Linked DNA regions of Homo sapiens: region 2 is linked to region 1. A link means that fine-mapping ties the variant in region 1 to the expression of a gene that starts in the linked region. Tissue or cell type: whole blood. Region 1 holds a variant in brackets; the other region holds the start of a gene. All regions are shown on one strand. Distances are between the middles of the regions.

Region 1 (8,192 bases):
GGATCGTTGCCCTTCCATCCCAGCACACCCAGGGCACCCACTCCAAGCTATTCCAGTAACTTACTATTCTGTTAACCTTGAGGAGGGCAGGGACCTTCTGCTTAATTCTCCACATGGCTGCTGTTCTGAAGTGGGGAGAGTGGCCATAGAAGCAGAGGAGATCATTATTCATAGGAAAAGTTTTTCTTGTTCTTTTTCATTAAATGCCTCTGGTAGGAGAAAATGAATAAATAGAAACATTGAATACACTGCTTTTTCTAAGCCCATGGTCAGAGACAAAAGGAAAAGCACATGACAAATAAAAGGGAATCTCCCCTTCCATTTTCTCTCCTTTCACTCTATTTTCTGACAAGACCAGAGTGGAGCTCCCCTTGAGTCACGTGCTTTCTGCACACCGCAGGTCAAATCCAGTATCTTGCATGGTGTGTTATAAAGCCTCTAAAACAAATCAGCACAGGTCCTTCTTTAGTCTCTCTCCAAGGGGGATTCCATGGTATTGTTATTGCTGGAAACCCCTCTTCACCTCTGTGAGGAGACAGAGCTACTTACAGGCAGGACGCAGCCTGAGTTTTAGTCATTTTAAGATCTGATAGTCTCGAACAAGGTGGGGAATCCTTGCATGTAGAAATTGCTCCTCTCTGCCTCACCATATCTTTATATAAGTGATGAGGGGTCCCGAAGTGGGGCAGGGGACTTACTTCCTTGACCTCGAAGTCCTAAGCATCCGGAGACCAACCTTTTGAGGATCACGCCTAACAGGCTCTGTCCACCATTCCTTATGCAGAAAGAAAGGAACACAGCGCCAGCATCCTGCCCCTCTCTCCTCTGTTGATCTGTGAGTTCTGTTCATCACTAAGAATGCCATTTGGGGATTTTCCCCTCTTGCTTTTATTACCTTAACACTAGACAAGTGAAGAAGAAGAAGAGTTAGAGGAGGAGGAGGAGGAGGACCCGGAAGAAGATAGGAAATCCACAAAAGAAGAAGAGAGTGAGGTGCCGAAGTCCCCGGAGCCACCACCCGTCCCCGTCCTGGCTCCCACGGAGGGGCCGCCCCTGCAGGCCCTGGGCCAGCCCTCAGGCTCCTTCATCTGTGAAATGCCCAACTGTGGGGCTGTAAGTGTGTCTGTGTCGTCTGGGGATCTGGGACAAGTGAGAGCCATATAGCTGTGCCTGGCTTTAAGAGATGATGTATTTTCGAGAGTGCTCTTCCAACAGTCACAGTTTGGCAGAGGGTGCTCCATGTTGCCATTGTTTTCTGCTTCATTTGGCCAACAGGTATTTACAGAGTGTGTGTTCTGTGTCAAGCATGATGCTGCGTGTTGGAGAACACAGAGAAGGCCCCCATGCCCAGGAGTGTGTGATTCCAAGCTCTGCAGTGAGCGTGGCCTCCAAAACATACATTCCACATTTCCTGGAGCCTCTGCATTCCCCTGGGCTGTGTGTCACACAAGCTTGTGCCCTGTCAACATGCATTTAAATGTACTAGGAGAGCCTGCTGACAAAGATCATCCTTTTATGACATAATTACTTGCCCTACCTCCTGCAATTTTACCTATTTAGAAGGTTTTGCATTTCACATTTCATAAAGTGTTACTAATCGAAATGTCACTAATTTAAAATTGAGAACACTGTTACAAAGATTTAACTAAAGTTTATCTTTGTACTCTATGGTGGAGAAAAAAAAGATTTACTAAAAGTAAATTAATCATATAAACAGGCTGAAAGGGAGTGTGTGTAAATACAGAGGCTACTACTTTTCAAGAATATTAGAAGCATAATTTAGCTAAAATAAAACAAGTTCACCATGTGGTCATTCTTAGCACTAAAGAAAGACCTTACGGTATCTGTGCTGGCCTTGTCTAAGGCTCCATATGTATTTTAAAGGATATTTTTAAAGGTTATTTCTCAATCTCCCGCTGGTCTGCCACTAGTCTGAATTGGTGAGCTTTTCCCAAATCAGGTTTCTTAAGGCCAGGCACACCTGTATAGGCAAGTTCTAGAGGGATTACCCCTCAAAATAATGTTGCCCCTTGCAGAGGAAGCCCATTTTCCTTAAGTCAGTGTGCTTGTCTTTGCTCATACATGATATAGGACAGTGCTGTTCTCCAGAGTGTACTGAATGCTGCTTACCTGTCACTTAGATGGAGAAAGCAACAGTCTTTAAAATATTTAGATCCTAAAGCAGAAATTCATTTGATTTGCATTTAAGAAAAAATGAAAATTAAAAAAAAAACAAAAAAGATACATACATTTTGCATTCACTTTGAAGAGAACAGAAGAGATTGCTGGCTTGTTTTCCATCTTTGATGTTTAATGACCTGGCCATTTTGTATAGAGTGTTCACTGCAGCATGATTGCGATAATGACTTTAAGTGATGGTATTTCTTGGTGAATTTGTTCAGAAATTAGATGCCTCCTCAAATCATAGCTCTATGTACAATAAGTTGTGTACCAAATGGAAGTTATCTTTTACTTTTTCCCATCAAATGCTCAGCAAGTTAGATATTTTTCTGTTCCAATTTTTCTGTACATAAGGGAAAAGATATTTTTTAATGACTTTTAAAAATCACAGTGGAAAAAGCGTGCTGGTTTTATTTTATTCCTTGCCTAACGATGGAGGCTTTGGTTGCTAAGTCAGCGATAGGTTTTTTCCTATGTAAGAAAATAACCAGAGCTTGGCCAGGCGCGGTGGCTCACGCCTGTAATCCCAGCACTTTGGGAGGCTGAGGCAGGTGGATCACAAGGTCAAGAGATCAAGACCATCCTGGCCAACATGGTGAAACCCCGTCTCTACTATACTAAAAATACAAAACTTACCTGGGCGTGGTGGTGCGCGCCTGTAGTCCCAGCTACTTGGGAGGCTAAGGCAGGAGAATCGCTTAAACCCAGGAGGCAGAGGTTGCGGTAAACTGAGATCATGCCACTGCACTCCAGCCTGGTGACAGAGTGAGACTCCATCTGAAAAAAAAAAAACAAGCAAACAAACAAACAAAAAAAACAGAGATCATAAACTTAATACAGCAACTACTACAGCTAGACAGCCCAGTAGGTACTCCCCTTAGCTGATGAGTTTAACAAGCTGGAAGCCAGGACTCATTGGATTCAGGGATATGGATTTACACCCCTTTATAGCGGTGGTTCTGAACTGGGGATGATTTATTCCCCAAGAACATTTGGCAGTGTCTGGAATTTATCATAACTTTTATCATAAATGCGGAGGTGCTGCTAGCATCTGGTAGGGCCAGAGATGCTGCTAAACATCCTATACAACAGAGCCCCCCACCCATCACAACAAAGAATTATCCAGCCCAAAATGATAGTAGTGCTGATGTTAAGAAAACCCAGCTTTATGGCAGGATTTTAAAATTCTGCCAAGATCCTTCTTCTTTTTATCATCTGTATTAAAATTTGGGGGTCTTAAACATTGCTTCAACAATGGGCTACTGATTAAGGCTATCTACAACGTAGAATACGTCAGAAAACCTAATCACTGTCTTTCAAACTGGATTCCTTAGGGTGCTAGGGCTTCCTCGGGGTAGATAGAGCTGAGCAAACAGGCGCAATTCTGGGGC[A/G]CTGTCTCCATTCTAGCCAGAGCACCTCTGCTTTTAACTTGAGCCTGAGTTTTTTTAGTAAGACCTGATTTCCTAAAAAGGAAGGAGGGAGGGAAAGAGGAAGGAAGGAAGAAAAATGGGAGGAAAAGAAGGAGGTAGTTATCATCTTTAAAAAAGTTTGAGGCCAGGCGTGGTGGCTCACGCCTGTAATCCCAGCACTTTGGGAGGCCAAGGCGGGCAGATCACAAGGTCAGGAGATCGAGACCATCCTGGCTAACACGGTGAAACCCTGTCTCTACTAAAACTACAAAAAATTAGCCAGGCGTGGTGGCGGGCGCCTGTAGTCCCAGCTACTCGGGAGGCTGAGGCAGGAGAATGGTGTGAACCTGGGAGGCGGAGCTTGCAGTGAGCTGAGACCGCACCACCACACTCCAGCCTGGGTGACAGAGCGAGACTCTGTCTCAAAAAAAAAAAAAAAAAAAAAAGTTTGAAAGCTGGTCCAGCCCTCTCATTCCTCAGATGGAAAAAAATAAAGTATACAGAAGGGAAATGGCCCAACAGCTTTAGTTATAGTAGAGCTGGGTCCAAACCCCTGACGTCTTGACTTCTAGACAGTAGCTTTATTCTTTATCCTGTGCCACGTCGCTTCTTCTCTTCTGATTGTAGCAGTGATGAGGTTTTGATTGGCACAGGATCTGTGGTTGTGGTATTTGATCTTTACCTTTTGTAGCATATGCCCAAAGTTTGCTTATATAAAACCCTTGTGCCCTGTCATTAGACAGTTTCAAGTATTCCATGTTTACCACTGAGTAACTAATAACCCTAATTTCCTTTTCAGGACTGTAGATGTCATGTCACTCCCTTTCTTCCCCAGGTGTTCAGCTCCCGACAGGCACTGAATGGCCATGCCCGCATCCACGGGGGCACCAACCAGGTGACCAAGGCCCGAGGTGCCATCCCCTCTGGGAAGCAGAAGCCTGGTGGCACCCAGAGTGGGTACTGTTCGGTAAAGAGCTCACCCTCTCACAGCACCACCAGCGGCGAGACAGACCCCACCACCATCTTCCCCTGCAAGGAGTGTGGCAAGTAGGTGCAGGGGACCGGGGACTGAATCTGAGTTCATGATGGGTAGTCGCTCTATGGGAGCTGGGCCAGGATGGCCTGAGGTTTCTTCAATCAGAAAAAAGAACTTAGACCTCAAAACTCTTCTTCGTGTCATCTTTGGGATGGGTATGTAGTCCTGTTGCAGACTCAGAATATGGCCATTCTGTTATCTTAGAGCCTTGTAAGGATGGATATCTTCAGAGAGTGAACCTGTAAGTTACAAAACTTCACTCTTTCCCAGGAATGGCAGGTGGGACTCTGGTTCCCACTCCTTCCCTTCACACCCAAGCTATGTTCACTAGCATTACTCTGTTTGGATCCCCGCTGAATGATTTGAGAATGGCTCTACAACATCTAATCAGGAACTCTCTGTAACACAGATGGCTCATACAGGGTAATCCTACCACCTTCGCTTACTTCTGTGACTAAGGCAGACATCACTAATCAATCACCACACTTTGCTATCACTTTAAGACAAAGCCTCAATTACTTTTTGTTGTCATGCTTCAAGCTGCACAACCAATTAATCAGAGTTGACACATGAAATAAAACCTATTTGTTATCCTCCCCTTTTAGGTATAATTTAAAAAACAACAACAGCTAAAGAAAAAAAGTAACGAGATAGTAATTATAATAGCTAACATTTACTGAGCATTTACTTTGTTACATGCTTTATGTGTGTGAGCTCACTTAATCCTTACATAGAAACTCCATGTGATACAGATACTGTTTTTTTATCTTTGTTTTACAAATAAGGGTTTAAAAATTAGGTAAAATGACTTGACCTAAATCACAGTGCCAGTAAAGAGCAGAACTGAGATTTGAACCCAGTTTTGTCCGAATGCAGACCTGGGCTTCTGACCACTGCTCTTTCCTTTTGGTTTACTTTGTTTTTTGCTTTAGGTAGAAAATGCCATTGATGGTAAGATGGGTGATTCCCTCCCACAGCCTCCAGTAGAGAATTCCAGTGTACTTCTCAATGAGTCCACCTGACTGGAAGGGTACTACATTGTTATGAATTACATCCTTTAGGAGCCTTGCTGAGTTCCTCTTCCCATAATTCCTAGTGCCTCGAGCATGAAAAGGAGTATTACCTGGGAGAGATGCTGCCCAAGTGGTTTCTGAAACTCTACCACGAAAACATCCCTAGTTACATCAGCAAGGCTAGGTGGGACCTCTACTTATACATCCTCATAGAGTAGAGCAGGCAACTTAATAGTAACTGCTGTTTATCAGGTACTAACTATGTGCCTGGCACTGTTTTAAAGGATTCTTTACATGTTTTAGTCTGTTTTGTGTTGCTACAACAGAATATCACTGACTGGATAATTTATAAAGAAAATAAATTTATTTCTTATAGTTCTGGAGGCTGGGAAGTTCAAGGTCAAGGGGCCTGCATCTGGCAAGGGCCTTCTTGCTAAGTCATCCCATTGTGGAAGGGCAAAGAGAGGGGAGAGAGAGCAAGAGGTTGAACTTGCAGCCTCATACCCTATTATAATCGGCATGAATCCATTCATGAGGGTGAGGCCCTCGTCACTGAAACACCTCCCATTAGGCCACACCTTCCAACATAGCTGCATTAGGGATTCAGTTTTCAACATGTGCTGTTTGGGGGACACATTCAACCCATAGCACATGTACTGATTAATCTTTAAAATAGCCCTATGAGGCAGGTACTTTTAGGAGCTTCTTTTTTACAGGCAGAAACTGAGGCACAGAAAAGTGAAGCCCCTGTTGCAGTTCACAGCGAGCAGCCTAGTGGGGATTCACACCATGCAGGCTGGCCTGGCCTTGTGCTCCTGGCTCTATGCCATGCTGCGTCTGATTAAGCCCAGCTTGATGGCACCCACCAAAGTGAACTGGAACTAGCAGATCACTTCCCCCCATGAAGCACAGGGATGGGAGAGATGGGATTCGGTGTGGGTCTCCTCCACACCCTGCTGTCCTTCCAAGCTGGCCATGATGTCATTTTAACATCACCACCCACCACACACTGGTGCACCATGGAAGAAATGGGCCCCTGGATTGATCTTAAGGCTTTTTTAATTGAAATAATGATGGAACCACCCTCAGCTGACTCTCAGTGATCTCCCGCTTATTTGTCCTGGAGTGGCAGCATCAGGGTATCAGGGTCTTGCCAGTTTTCCCCCAGAGGAGCTAGCACCACCCACTCATTAGGCTCAAACAGGCTACAACGCTACATTCCACCAGGTGGAGACAGAGGATGATTTAACTTAAAAAAAATCAGTATTTCATGTTTCCCAGCCATGTCTCAGTAGCATCTATTAAATGTTTTTTTTTTTGGAGTCTTACGTTGCTTGGAAACTTTTTCTACCAGAAATCCAGTTATGATTTCATGGAAAATACAAATGGTTTCTGTGGCTTTTCCTAACTCAAAATAACATTAGGCAAATGTTCACAAAATACCTCTTAGAGGTGCTGAAATTATGTTTGTTACATTTAACCATTTTCAGTGTGTCCAAGCAGAATTGTGATTTATCAGCCCCGTTGGACTCAGGCCTTAGAAACCAGGTGTTTTGTGTGTGTGTTTTTGTTTTGTTTTGTTTTTTCCTTCATGAGCTCAGAAGTGACTAAAGAGTATTATGCCACCCCCTCTCCATAAACAGTCTCACACCTGGGCACGCTTCTTCTGAAAAAGGTCCAGATAGTTAATATTTGAGGTTTTGTGGGCCGTTTACTGTCTTTATCATAACTGCTCAGCTGTGCCATTGCAGCACAGAAACGGCCATCAACATTGCATAAACAGACATGGCTATGTGCCAATAAAACTTTATTCCCAAAAACAGTCAGGATTTGGCCCACTGACCATAGTTTGCAGACCTCTCATCTAAAGAATTAACCCCAGCAATATATCATTTTATCCCCGGGTTTCTCAACCTCAGCACTGTTGGCATTTCAAGTCTGCCAATTCCTTGCTTGGCGAAGAGGGAGTGTCCTCTGTGTTGGAGGATGTGTAGCCATTATGATAATATCATGGCCACAAAGCAGGGGCCTTAAGTGAAAGGGAGTAGTAGATGTAGCTCAGAAGTCAAGTACAATAAAGACAGGGGCCACTGAATTTGGCCACACAGAGTTACCAGTGACCTCGAGAAGAGCAATTGGGTTGACAGGGAGAGGACAACAGTCCACTTGGAGAGGAAGAAGCAGAGAAAAAAGAGATCCACCAAGTGCGTGTGGGCAGATCCTTCAAGAATTTTGACCGTGGGTTGGGCGCAGTGGTTCACACGTGTAATCACAACACTTTGGGAGGCCAAGGTGGGAGGATCACTTGAGGCCAGGAGTTCGAGGCCAGCATGGGCAACATAGCAAGACTCCATCTCTACAAAATATTTAAAAATTAGCCAGGCATGGTGGTATGTACCTGTAGTCCTAGCTAATCGAGAGGCTCAGGTGGGAGGATCACTTGAGCCCAGGAGTTCAAGGTTATGGTGAGCTGTGATCACACCAGTGCACTCCAGCCTGGGCAATAGAGAGACACCCTGTCTCTATTTAAAACAACAACAACAACAACAACAA
Region 2 (8,176 bases), 39 kb after region 1:
GCGCTGTGGAATAGTCATCTCAGAGAGGGGGAGAGGGAATTCGGCAGGAAGAGTATGTAGTATGATTGTCTGGCATGATCTGAAGTGCGTACAGCCAGCATGATTTATGATGTCCTCCAATGATGTCCAGGCTCCCCACTGTAGGCAAAGTGTTACTGCATAGTTAGTGAACAGCCTTAACCAGGGCCAGGCCAAGTGAGGCGTTAGGAGGAGAGAGGGGCACAAAAGTCAAAATGGAGAGAATGCTGGGCCATGGAATGAAGATAAGGAGGAGAGTGAGGAGATGAGCAAGATGACAGATGTTAAAAACAGATCAGCAGGTTGGAAGTCGCAATGAGATTAGTGAATTATTGGAGTGAAGGTATTACAGTAACAGATGGAAGGGGTGGGGTGCTGATAACAGACGGCAGCGTTTGAATGTTTCAGAGGTAGTAGAGATTGGTGACAGCAAGGCCTAGGGTGGTGATCCTCAAACTTCAGTACGCATTGGAAGCACCTGGAGGGCTTGTTAAAACACAGACTCCTGGCCCCAGCCCACAGTTCCTGATTCAGCAGGTCTGAGGTGGGGCCTGAGACATTGCATTTCTAGCAAGCTCCCAGATGCTGCACTTGTGGCTCAGGGACCACAAGTGAATGGAAGTACTAGGTAAGGTGGAAGAAAAGCTCTTTGGAACTAAAGAGATCAAGGACCAGGCCAGGCCCGGTGGCTTACGCATGTGGGACCATGCCAGGTTGCCAGCAATTAGAGACTAAGAGGGCAGTGTGACCCCCACACATCTCACTGGGGCCGGGCGCAGTGGCTCATGCCTGTAATCCCAGCACTTTGGGAGGCCAAGGCGAGCAGATCATCTGAGGTCAGGAGTTCGAAACCAGCCTGGTCAACATGGTGAAACCCCATCTCTACTAAAAATAGAAAAATTGGCCGGGCATGGTGGCAGGCACCTGTAATTCCAGTTACTAGGGAGGCTGAGGCAGGAGAATCGCTTGAACCCGGGTGGCGGAGTTCACAGTGAGCCGAGATCGCACCACTGCATTCCAGCCTGGGTGAAAAGAGCAAAAACTCTGTTTCAAAAAAAAAAAAAAAAAAGAGAGAGAGATCAAGTACCTTTGAGGCCAGTGTATGGGATGGGCTGTTTATCCACTTGGAGGTCACAGTCACTGAAATGACTGACATGATGCTTTGAGACAAGCAGGGAAGTCACCAGTGAATGACAGTAATGAGGAGAAGTAAATAGTGGCAAGGAGTCAGATGTGGCTTCAAAGGGACTGGCCTTTTTTGGGGAGAAAAAAGTAAAAGGCCATTTGGAGGCAAGAGTTAGAAGCGAGGAGGACACTAGCCCTGTTATCTAGACCTTGAGGTGTGTGTGGGGGAGAAAAACCCACCACCACTTGAAAGGATGACAGAAGAAATCACATTTCTCCTTCAGGAATAGCAAGAAAGTTAAAAGAGCTTTCAGAGCTCAGTGACGTCTGGAGGCAGAGAACAGTGAGAGAGGAGGTCAGGCCTGGAGATGTGCAAAACAATTCAGGCTGAACACCCAGTGAGGGATGGGTAGGTTAAGGATAGATTCACTGGAACTGCTGCCTCTGAAGTCTTCTAGAAAAATGAGTGTCACTGGGCGTGGTGGCTCATGCCTATAATCCCAGCACTTTGGGAGACCAAGGCGGGTGGATCACTTGAGGTCAGGAGTTTGAAACCAGCCTGGCCAACATGATGAAACCCCATCTCTACTAAAAATACAAAAATTAGCTGGCTGCTGGGTGCATCAAACCAACATGGCACATGTATACCTATGTAACAAACCTGTATGTTGTGCACATGTACCCTAGAACTTAAAGTATAATAAAAAAAAAAAAAAGAAGAAAAAATAGCTGGGTGTTGTGGTGTGCACCTGTAATCCCAGCTGCTCGGGAGGCTGAGGCATGAGAATCACTTGAACCCGGAGGCGGAAGTTGCAGTGAGCCGAGATCACACCACTGCACTCCAGCCTGGGCGACAGAGCGAGACCCTGTCTCAAAAAATAGAAATTTAAAAAAAAAAAGCAAAGAAAAAGAAAAATGTGTGTCCCTGGTCTTTTGATTTCTTGGAGGTGTCATTTTTATGTTACATTAAAATAAGCATGAATATGTAATTGTTCAAAAGCAAATTTTACATGACCTATAATGTAAAAGTAAGAGCCTTCAAAGATATTTTAGGCCATGCTCCCAGATCCTTCTCACATGTTAGTATTTTGGAGGAAATGTGAAAAAGGCACTACCCCTAGGTCTTGTGTGAAGGGTTGGAGGGAGGCATTTGTAGTTTAAATCAGAAAGTGAAAAGCTCCCAAGATGAAAGGTGTAATCTGGAAAGGAGCTTCAGGGACCGAGTTAGCCTGGGAAGAGAGTTGCTCACCTAGAGCCCTTCCCATCATAGATTCTGCCTCTTTTCACTAGACCGTCTGAGGGGCGAGTCCCAGATCACCAGCAGATTCTGTTTTATGGCCTAGGACTTGATCTCACTTCCTCTCTGGATTTGAGTCTCCTGTCTCCAAGATGGGCCTCCCTGAAGCAATGTGAGGCCCAGCTAAAGAGATAGGGAGTGAGTGAGATGGGAGGATCCCAGCCTAGCACCCCGACTCTTTCTTCACTCTGCATCTCTCTGCTTACCTCTCAGTTTCTTCCCCTTCTACCTCTTCAGAGTCTACCAGGGCCAGCTTGGTTGCTTTGTTGACAAGGCTAAGGGAAGGAGTGAGGCTGGAGGAGTTTAGGCTGGAGGTCAGAACTTCCTGGGGAATCTCTTTTTTTTTTTTTTTTTTTTTTTTTGAGACAGAGTCTCACTCTGTCCCCCAGGCTGGAGTGCAGTGGTGTGATCGCAGCTCACTGCAACCTCTATCTCCCAGGTTCAAGTGATTCTCCTGCCTCAGCCTCCTGAATAGCTGGGATTACAGGTACCCACCACCATGCCCAGCTAATTTTTTGTATTTTTAGTAGAGACAGGATTTCACCATGTTGGCCAGGCTGGTCTCGAACTCCTGACCTTGTGATCCACCCACCTCGGCCTCCCAAAGTGCTGGGATTACAGGCATGAGCCACCGCACCCGGCCACCTGGGGAATCTTCTAATAGTCTTAGGGCAGCTTAGCTGGCCTGGACCCACCTCCCTTGCCACCTGCCCCCTGCACCGACTGATCATGTTCAGTCACCCAGGAGATGATGGAGAGGCTGATCAGGCCTCCTGGAAAGGGAGGAAGAGGGCCCTAGTTGGAGAGATCCATCAGCAGAAGCCAGGGAGGAGATACAGACCCTTGCTCCCTGATGCTCCTCAGGGCTAGCATGGGGCAGGAGTTTAGCTGGGAGGAGGCGGAGGCAGCTGGCGAGATAGATGTGGCGGAGCTCCAGGAGTGGTACAAGAAGTTTGTGATGGAGTGCCCCAGCGGCACACTCTTTATGCATGAGTTTAAGCGCTTCTTCAAGGTCACAGACGATGAGGAGGCCTCCCAGTATGTAGAGGGCATGTTCCGAGCCTTCGACAAGAATGGGGTAAGGCACCCTGAAGGGAAGGACCAGTGGCCAGTCCACCTGGCGCCTTCCTCCACAAGTGTCCTCAGGGAGAGCTCCCAGTTCCCCACTCCTCGGCTCTTTCTCTGCTCTTCTTTCCACTCCGTCTCTCTTTACCTTTTCTGTCTCACTCACCAAACCCTTCTGTCTCTTCTCTTCCTTTTGTCCCTTTCCATCTTCTCTGTCTCTCCTTCCCTCCCTCCATCTCTTAGCTGTCGGCTGATGCTCCCTGTGTCCTCTTCTTGAGAGCTGAAGGGCGACTGGCAGACAGTCCAGGTCCTCTCTTTGTGTATTTTTGACCAAGACTCTGCAGCCCAATGACCGGGTTTTCGCATCTGCCAGAGCCCCTGTCACTCTAAACACTAGGAGCAAAAGAGATGTTCTAAATGAGACAAGGTATCTTAGCATGGGCTATGAGCTCCCTCTTGTTGGGGTTCTTCTGAGACTGGTCAGATCCTCCCTGTCAAGAATGCTGGAAGAGGCTCCTGCATGTATTGGGAGACTGGGCGAATGACTGCAAAAGCCCCTTTCAGCTCTTCAAGTCCTGGAAGGTTTCATTAAATCATTCAGACTAGAGTTTCTCTAAGCCCACAATGTCACTAGCAGCTAAGAAGATAACACATCTTGTAAATGCACCAGGGGATTGAATTTTAAATTTCAATTCAGTTAAAAACCCCTTGATTATTTAAGGTTATCCAGTTCAGTGCCCTGGCAATCCTCAAATACCTCAAATACCTCAAATGCCCTGGTATTTGCCTCAAATACCAATTTAATCTGAAGAAAGTGTCAGTTCTCCATTCCTCAGTGCGTGGAGAACTTAGCTTTCTAAGCTGAATCACTGGGAATGCCACTTCAGGTCTCATCCTGTCGCTGGTACCAGTCAGTGCACGTCCCCACAGTGCCTGTCCCGGGACAGGAGGGTGAGGTCAGCACCTTCAATTCAACAGAACCTCCTTAGAGATGAACCCCATCGACCACCCCACAGGGCACAGAGCCAGTTTCGGACTTCTCAGCGCTCCGCCTCTCTTAGGTCTCCTCTGAATCAGCAGCAACCCTGGGTGGGAGGGGCAGACTTTTGTTATTCCAAATTAAATGATGAGAAAGCTGGGCAAAAGGGAATGAATCGATTTGCCCAAGGTCTTAAGTGCTCCTGCCTAGAAGGCAGGTTTTTTAAAGAGAGAAGATGACTTTTTAAAATAATTGATGTTTTTTTAAAATGTAAGAAAAGTAAACAAATATATCAGGTCATAAATAATAAGACTCATTTAAGTCCATCAATCTTCCCCAGATTCATCTAAAAATCAATACGATCATGATTCAAGATCCAAAGGGCTGATTAAGCCCCTAGGCATATAGTTGTACTCCTTATACCTCATCTCTTCTTATAAATCGGCATATGATGTTCATCAATGTTTTTTCCTTTTTGAATAACTTTTTAATTTTACTATGATTCTAAATTTACAGAAGAGTTATAAGAATGATACAAGTAACTCCCATATGCAATTTATCCAAATTTCCCCAGTTATTCACATTTTATATCATTTACTTTATCATTCTGCCTCTCTCTGTATACATACATATATATAATGTATCCTATAAGTATATATACATATACATGATACATAATTTATACATATACTTTTTTTAAGAGAAAGCTATAGATATCATGCCCGTTTATCCCTAAGTATTTCAGTGTGTATTTTCTTTTTTGTTTTTGAGACAGAGTCTCGCTCTGTCACCCAGTGGCATGATTTCAGCTCTTTGCGGCCTCTGATTTCCCAGGCTCAAGGGATCCTCCCACCTCAACCTCTCAAGTAGCTGGGATTACAGGTGTGCACCACCATGCCTGCTAATTTTTGTATTATTTATTTATTTATGTTGGTAGAGATGAGGTCTCGCCATGTTGCCCAGGCTAGAGTGCAGTGGCACAATCTCAGCTCACTGCAATCTCCACCTCCTGAGTTCAAGCAATTCTCATGACTCATCCTCCTGAGTAGCTAGGATTACAGGTGCACACTCCCATGCCTGGCTAATTTTTGTATTTTTAGTAGAAACGGGGTTTCACCATGTTGACCAGACTGGTGTCGAACTCCTGACCTGAAGTGATTTGCCCACCCCGGCCTCCCAGAGTGCTGGAATTACAGGCATGAGCCACTGCACCCGGCCAGGTTTCTTTCTTTTTTCCTTTTTCTTTTCTTTTCTTTTCTTTTCTCTCTTTTTTTTTTTTTTTTTTTTTTTTTTTGAGTTGGAGTCTCGCTCTGTCACCCTGGCTGTAGTGCAGTGGTATGATCTTGGCTCACTGCAACCTCCACCTCCCAGGTTCAAGCGATTCTCCTGCCTCAGCCTCCCCAGTAGCTGGGACTACAGGCGAGCACCACCATGCCCAGCTAATTTTTGTATTTTTAGTAGAGATGGGGTTTCACCATGTTGGCCATGATTGTCTCCATCTCTTGACTTCATGATCCACCCGCCTCGGTCTCCCAAAGTGTTGGGATTACAGGCATGAGCCACCATGCCTGGCCTTCCTTTTTCTTTTTTTTTTTCTTTTTTTTTTTTTGTATGATCATACATTGCATTTACTTGTTGTATCTCCTTAGTCTTCTTTAACCTGGAATCTTTAATCTCAGCTTTTCTTTTTTATTTGACTGTGACATTTTTGAAGACTGCAGCTGAGTTATGTTGTAGGACAGCCCACAACTGGCGTTTGTCTAAATTGGTAGAATTGCCACTGATGTGATGTTGTGTCCTCGGTTCATCATACCATCCGGTACAAGACATCAGTTTGTCCCATCACTGGCGTAGTTAACTTTGATCACTTGGTTAAGGTGGTATCTGCCATGTTTCAACATTGTAAAGTTACTATTTTTTTCTTTGTAATTAATAAGCAACATGTAAGGATATATCTTGAGACTAAGTAAATATCCTATTGTTCAGTCAAATTTTCTACTGGCTTTGGCATCTGTTGATAATTTTCTAACCCCATCACCCCTTCTCTATTTATTAGTTGGCATTCCACTGTAAGGAAGAGCCTCCCTAGAAAGTGTTTTTCAGTTCCTCTCTCAGGGACTGAGCCTTCTTTCCCACTTAGTCTTTGTCTCCAAACCTACACCTGACTCCATTCCCCCTTATATCAAGGAGTGTCATTTCGGAACAATCGGTCTGAGATTTCTAAAGCAAATCCAATCAAAAGTGTTTATAGATGTGGTTCACACGTGAAAATGTGAGGTGATGGAAACCGGTTTGGTGGGGACAAAAAGGTAGGAACACCTCGTCTCTGCCACTCTCCCTTGCAACTCTCGTGGTTGCCCTATGACCGCCTGGAATGGAAGAAAGGGGAGGGTGAAGATCAGATGTCATTTAGGATTCTTATATAACATGCATTGAAGTCAGGGCTGGTGCACAAATATGGCCAATTCAAGGAGAAACAGGGCAGATAATCCCACAGAGCCGGTGACACGCCCATCCTATTCCTGAGTAGACAGAGCCATTTCCATCACTCTCAGGCCTCTGTGGGTAATTGGAGCTGACAAGGTCCCATGCATAGCAGATGAGATTAGTCCCAGCTGGACGTTTCCCAGAAATGGTCCTGGGGTTTCCAGTAACCTCTCAGATGAGATCACTTGTCTAGAGATCACTCTGGAATATGTCTCATATAAGGCAAGGAGTCATGGAAACTGAATCATGTTGAGAGAGGATGTTGTAGGAATAGAAGCTTCTGGACAAAGAATGAGGAAGACTCTGGAGATCTAGAGAGTGGGGATTTGTGAGTGGTTTCAGGTTTTGTTTTTGTTTTTCTTCTCTTGGCACCCCCAAGCACTAGGCTTATTTGCTGGACAGAAATAGATCTTAAGTGGAGACTGCAAGTTCTTCCGACGTGATGCACTGGAGGAGATGCATGCCTGGAAAAGCTCTGCCACTTGCTGGCTGGGTGGCCTGGGAACCTCTGGGTCTCAGGCTCCTCATCCATAAAATGGGGATAATAACTAATTCTCATTAAATAAGAAACACAAGATTGATTTGTGGTAAGCTTAATAAGTAACAACTACTCGAGAAAATAGCCTTTTAAAGAACTGACAACCATTGCTAAGTGTCTACCCTAAAAAAAGAAATACCAGAGATATAAGAAAAGGTATACGTGCAAAAAAAAAGTTCATTGTTTAATGGAAAATATTAGAAATATATTCAACAAAGGGAATGTTCAGTACCCCCTCCCCACCAAAAAAAAAAAAAAAAATGGAAGTTGACATTTTAACTAATTTTTAAAGACATGAGAAAATGTTACATGAGAATGAAGGAAACAAAATTATAAATATAATCTGACCTCAATTAGATAAGTATATGATGGGGAGTACGGAGACCATATATTTATAGGAATTATATAAAAGATATGAATAGAACACTTCAGGTACTAAGGTAAGCTCGTTTTGTTTTCTTCTTAGTTTTTCCTTAGGCTTCTTGCTGTTTCCCTCATTTTCTGCCATTTTCTCCTGTTGCTCAAACCTTGTTCACTGAGGCACCCCTTGATCTGGGGCTGGGGCTCCTGAGTGGCCTGACCCAGTGGGACAGAAGTGCTCTGGGCCATCAGTGTCATTTCTGATAACAAAGTCATGTGAATGACAGGCACTCCTGGGGGATCTGAT

What was found. PIP is the estimated chance that this variant, and not a neighbour inherited with it, causes the effect.
Region 2: it holds the start of GUCA1B, and the variant in region 1 is fine-mapped to the expression of GUCA1B in whole blood (TOPMed, PIP above 0.99).

What each region holds. Positions count from the first base shown.
Region 1 is chr6:42,229,126-42,237,317 of GRCh38, reverse strand. It overlaps TRERF1 (transcriptional regulating factor 1), which reads left to right. Exons shown (of 18, transcript NM_001395490.1): 16 at 907-1,113; 17 at 4,390-4,637. It overlaps LOC105375061 (a long non-coding RNA gene), which reads right to left. Exons shown (of 4, transcript XR_001744122.2): 2 at 2,818-2,958; 3 at 2,250-2,524; 4 at 814-902. Among named protein-coding and RNA genes, the nearest start is that of MRPS10, 15 kb to the right of the region's middle. RefSeq lists an enhancer at 661-820. The variant A/G (reference allele first, on the strand shown) is at 3,573.
Region 2 is chr6:42,189,956-42,198,131 of GRCh38, reverse strand. It overlaps GUCA1B (guanylate cyclase activator 1B), which reads left to right and starts at 3,176. Exons shown (of 4, transcript NM_002098.6): 1 at 3,176-3,518. The coding sequence starts at 3,312. RefSeq lists a cis regulatory region at 1-685.